Linked DNA regions of Homo sapiens: region 1 is linked to region 2. The links come from fine-mapping of genetic effects on gene expression. A gene starts in region 2. The other region holds a variant in brackets. All regions are shown on one strand. Distances are between the middles of the regions.

What was found. PIP is the estimated chance that this variant, and not a neighbour inherited with it, causes the effect. A credible set is the group of variants that fine-mapping cannot tell apart.
Region 1: its variant is the best candidate, but not a certain one, in a credible set for the expression of C7 in testis (GTEx, PIP 0.89).

What each region holds. Positions count from the first base shown.
Region 1 is chr5:41,265,454-41,268,381 of GRCh38, forward strand. No RefSeq gene overlaps it. Among named protein-coding and RNA genes, the nearest start is that of C6, 53 kb to the left of the region's middle. The variant C/T (reference allele first, on the strand shown) is at 1,256.
Region 2 is chr5:40,907,605-40,910,468 of GRCh38, forward strand. C7 (complement C7) reads left to right here and starts at 1,893. Exons shown (of 18, transcript NM_000587.4): 1 at 1,893-2,012. The coding sequence starts at 2,007.

The DNA.
Region 1 (2,928 bases), 360 kb after region 2:
TTTGGTTTACAGCATGTCCACACTAGTCTTGACTGAAGTTAAAGGAAGATCTGGTTTGCACAAATATTTATTATTAAAATGTAATATCAACAATTCCTTAATTTGGAAAAATATGAGGAAATCATCTGTGGGCAGAAAACAATGGCTCAAGGAATTTTTAGAGCAAACAATTTTGATATCAGCAACAAATTATTGAAGCAAAAATGGAAATCTCACTCCCTTTGTCTTACTTTTTTAAGACAAGTGGAATGTTTACCTATTATCCAGAGCATACCTTTGTAAACCAAGGAATCACTCGAGAATAAAACGTCCTTATAAATAAGAGGCACAGAGGGATTGGAAGCTGTTCCCTGATATATGGCAAACACTAGCATTCCTTCCCTTTGGAAGAGAATGACTTTAATCTCATTTTTGCATACATCCAAAATGAGAATGCAGTTTTCTTAGGATGCTCTAGCAAAGCTCTTTCATTCAGACATGGGCACTACCTGGGAACCAAAAAGCTGAACTCTGATTTAAGCTCTGGTCATTATCTATGGAGCCTTAGAAAAAAAAAAAAAAAACTATCATCTGGCTTCAGCTTCCATATCTGCAAAACATGGAGATTAATTTAGAGGCATTTAAGGATTCCTCCCAGTACCAATATTTTGGAAATCTGTATTTCTCCCTGAAAATTCAGAGAAAGAAAAGAGAGGTTCATAGAAACCATGTCTCTAGTACATGTCCTGTTGGTCATGGGCATTAAAAAATAAAGATAATACTGTGGTTTGAGTAATGAAGACATTTTTATGTTTGTGAACAATTGTGTTTTCTATGCGAATCTCCAGTTAGGAATTACAGAACAAATAGAATTAGAATTTGTGGTGGTATGCTTACCGTGTATATAGTTAGGGACTTTTCTCCATGGCCAAAGAAGTATATGTCAACATGTCACAGCCTAATTTTCAAAATTTGTGAAGGAGAGAGATTAAGATGTTCTCTTCATTAAAATAGCACAGGAATTTTGGAGAAGATAAACCAAGTACAATAATACTTACAAGGCTCTGGGTTTTAGCACCTCAGCGGGCAAAGAGATGCTGTACCAAAATGTCTTCATAGGCAGGCAGATCTGTGAGATGCAGAACATGCTGGCCTGGCCTGCCCTGTGAAGTAAACAAGTCCCTTAGCCTCTTTTTGTCCCAGATTCCTTGTCCATAAAAAAAAGGGTTGAATATCTTATCTTCCTAGTCACTTTCAGTTCCAGAGTTTTATGACT[C/T]TTTAAGAACAGATTAAAACGTGGTCAAAGTAATATATAAACAAATTGTACAGATGCATATTTTAAATTCTTAAGAAAATATTAATAAGTTCTTCAAAGACACTCATTTAAATACGAATTATTTATGAGCTAATTAAAACTCATAGAGTCACATCACTTTAGATATGAAAGAAACCTTCAGTGTTCCACACATCACTGTATATCATGATTATTTGTGAATGTGTCCCTTCCTTGAAAGCTTTTGAGGACATAAATAGTCTATGTTTCTTTGTATCATCAGTGCTTATACCAGTAAAGATATAGAGTGTTTACTAAATAAAAATTAGTTGAGTAAATTTTGCAGATAAACAGAAACTTGAAAATATCTGCTAAACTACTCAAAGTTTCACACATAGCTAGAATAAAACGTCTCCCTCTTCTGATACCCAATGCAGAGACAGCTGATTTCTTCTTAAGGCTAAATTGTGATGTTTTCTAAAATGTATCATCGGTAATAACATTTACTTATAAAAACAGGTCTTCTGAGGACTTCAAGGCAGGACCAATAGAACTGAGCAGAGAGTAAAGCGCACAAAAAACATTTAGTAACTATTGATTGATTGATTGAAACATGAATCAAATTACTCTTATCTTCTTAAAAGTAATAAAGTTATATCTCTGTGGTAGCCATCCCAAGATGGCTGCCTTTCTTTCTCCTGTGCCTGTATTATGTGCTATTCCCTTACCAAGAGATGAAGCTTATTCCGCCACATCCTTGAATCCCACCCTGCCACTGATTTAACCATTAGAGTACTGACACTATATCAGGTCTGGTCCTGACCTTTGGGAGTATAACAGCTTTCACCTTGGTCTCTTGGAGGCCAGAGCCACCATACATAAAGTTCACCTTCAGTGCTGAAGAGGTACTTAGACTACATGGAGAGAGAGAGAGGCCCATCTTAGCCCAAACTTCCAGCCACCCCCACCCTGGCTCTTGGAATGCGAAGAAAGCTGCCTCAAACCCTCCAGAACAGCTCATCTAGCTAAATATCGCAAAGTGACCACAGTCAATGCCTCAAGGAGCAGAAGAATTATACAGCTGAGTCCCGCTTGAATTAAAGTCAGATAAAATATTGAGATATAATAAAAGATTATTGTTCTAGATTACTTAGTTTGGGGGTAGTTTATTATGAAACAATAAATAACTGGAACACTTCTTTATTGAACAAGTATATAATTTTACTTTTCTATTTTTCTATATTAGGAAATTAGAAAATAATTCTAATTTTCTGTAAGTAAAATTTTGCTGACCCCCCTACTCTTATCCCAAATAAATACAAGTTAGAAAGATTTAATAATGCTAATTTCAAGCTTTGCTATGTTAAGAATATGTCCAGGATATCAGCATTAAGAAAAGCTATAGCTAGCTTCTTTATTTTATAGAAAGGAAGTTAATTGTAATGTGATTTATGGTGCATAAGCTACAGTATCAATTTCTTTCCCCATAAATGTGCCCTACCTTTTACAGAGAAGCCAATTGAAGCAGTAAAAATTTGTCTTAGTACAGGCATTTATTTGGCCAAAAGAATCCTGAAAGAATGACTGTTGTATGTAAGCTGTTTCAGTCCCTTTCTTCCCCTTTTCCTTATCCTTTATTTAATATTTCCATTTTCATTTTAGACTCCTAACTCACT
Region 2 (2,864 bases):
TCACCATCATGGCTAGGCTGGTCTTGAACTCCTGACCTCAAGTGATCCACCCACCTCAGCCTCCCAAAGTGCTGGGATCACAGGTGTGAACCACCACACCTGGCTGGACTAACTCTTAATTGCAGAGTTCGTGTGCAATGTCTTTCAGAGTTCCTCATTAGAACTGAACTCAAATTGCCCACTGGAGTCTCTTGCTTGATAAAACACCCTTTATTGACTTTCTTTTCTCCCCAATCTCACTTTCCCACTTCCAGTGGTGCTTTCTAAGATTATCTCTTAAAACAAAAACAAAAACAAACTACTTGCAATTGAATTCTTGTTTCTGAATCTACTTCTGGGGGAACCCAAACTAAGAGAGCCGCTGAAATGGAATTGTATATTGAGAATTTAAGATGAGTCTATGGCATCTGGAATTTATGCAGTTGGAGCTGAATAAAAAATATTTCTTTCAGGAGTCAGGATCTTTGTCTCTGTGACAAAATTTCTTCCACACAAATCACTAAAGCTTTGAACAAAAGATGCGGAAGCTTTGTCTCTGGAAACCACCATTAATTTATGAGGGGAGGATAGGGGTTGTCTTTATTATTCCAGTGCTTTGGATATAGGAAGAAAAAGTCATTAAAGCTAGAAAATCTTCACTAATGGAATGTTTACTTATAAAATTATTCTTAACTCAAATTTTCTTTCCCGCTTAACATTTATTCTACCTCACTCATAATGCACTAGCAGCTAGTGTTAGAATATTTGGTCCAACAATACAAATAAAACTGTAGCTCAATTTTTTTTTTTTTTTTTTTTTTGAGATGGAATCTCACTCTGTCTCCCAGGCTGGAGTGCAGTGGTGCGATCTCAGCTCACTGCAACCTCCGCCTCCTGGGTTCAAGTGATTCTTCTCTCTCAGCCTCCTGAGTAGCTGGGACTACAAGTGCATGCTACCATGCCTGGCTAATTTTTTTGTGTTTTTAGTAGAGACGGGGTTTCACTGTATTGTCCAGGCTGGTCTCGAACTCCTGACCTCTTGGTCCGCTCGCCTTGGCCTCCCAAAGTGCTGGGATTACAGGCATGAGCCACCGCGCCTGGCCAACTGTAGCTCAGTTTCAATAGGAAATCTAAAATCTTGCAAAATAAGCAGCATTTTATTAAATGTATGAAGGTGATGTTGGGGACTTGCTAGAATCAATGCAAAGCTATGGGAAAATAAAGACCTGGTAGAATAAGACAAGATAAAAAGCAAAGGAGAGAAAATGGATGTGGATAATGACCCTGAGAAGAACTTTCCAACACAGTGATCTGATTATCAAAGGATTAAGTGAAGTTCTTGAGAAAATTAGTGATGTCCTCAAATATGTTTACAAAAATTGATATTCTTTCTGATTATTCTGTGAAAGTTAAGCATGAAGGGATGACTATTGGGTTGTATTAGGCTGTACTTTGGGGAAAAATTCTACTCCAGAACATTCTATTTAGATTTTGAGTGACAGAACTGCATTTAAATATTTTCTTTCATAAAATATTTAATCTCAAAGTCTGGCATATAACACCTTTTAAGAGAATCATGAAAACATCCACTTAGTTTAGTAGATTGAAACAAGAAGGAGGCTCATCCCTTGCCTTACAGAGTCTCCTTTGGTTGAAAATCACTTAAACATTGAACTGAGAACATTTGCTGTGTTTCCTGATTTATAGATATGTTTCTAAGAAACATATCTATAACTTCCAAACAGTCCCAGCTGGCTGTAGCTAAGGCTGTGTAATTGATAAGATGCATCTGGTTTCAAGGCACAGATTAAGTACAAGGTCAGGCTCTTGCTGTCGTTGGAGAATCCGGTTGGGGTAGGAGCTAAATCTCAGGACCACTTGCTCTATATATGAGTGCCAAGATAATCTAGAGCAGGGAGAGGCAGAGAGGCAGGCAGCCTGCTGGGCTCTTCCTGCTGTTGAAAACTTACCCGGCCCTTACAGAGGAAATCTTCCTCCTCTCTTCTGCCCTGAATGTTTTCCCAAACATGAAGGTAAGACAATAAATTCATTACTTTTGTAAATGAAGCTATCTTTTCAAATGAACGGGGGTAATATAAATGTAATTTAAACGAAGAGGTGTAATACCTAACTGAAAGACATCAAATAAATAGAAGGCCAGAGGAAAATACAGAAGAAAAAGACCTGGGGGTGATGTTTAGAAATCCTTATTTAAACATATTTAACAGTTCAGCCAAAGTGAATTCCTTTTTCTTATCTTGTGGTGAAATTATAGGTCCAGAGGTCTGGGAATCAGGAATTGGAGACAATGTTTATGAAAGTCCCGATAAAGTCATAAAGAAATACAATAGTACTATTGTTATTTCTTGGGAAAAACTTTCCTCTGGTGTATTTTTTTTTTTTTTTTTTGCTTGTTTGGATTAGGAGCCATGCAGTAGGGTCCTGCGATTTATCTAAGAGCTAATAGAAAAGCAAATTTGCAGGCTTGGAACTTGAGAATTTGAAATCCTGGATGAAAGAGTCAGCATTGTGAGAATAGAAGATATGAGTAGATGGAATAAAACTAAAGGTCTACCAAGTATACATGTTGGCCCAATGCAAAAAGGCCAAATATTAAAAAACAAAACAAAACACAACCAAAAAGCTATTCAACAAAAGATAAGACCAAAGATAGAAATCGCTATCATAGACTAAATCTCTGGAATGCAAAAATAAGTTGAGATTGCTATTCAAATTTTATTATTGTAAATTTTGGTATTTAAACTTTAAAAATGTTGCATTGTAAGACTGTAGGAATAATTTCACAGATCTGTCAGTGGCTAGATTGCTTCCATAGTCACTGTATTGTCCATTGGGGCACCGAATCCAAGCTCGCTCATTATTGG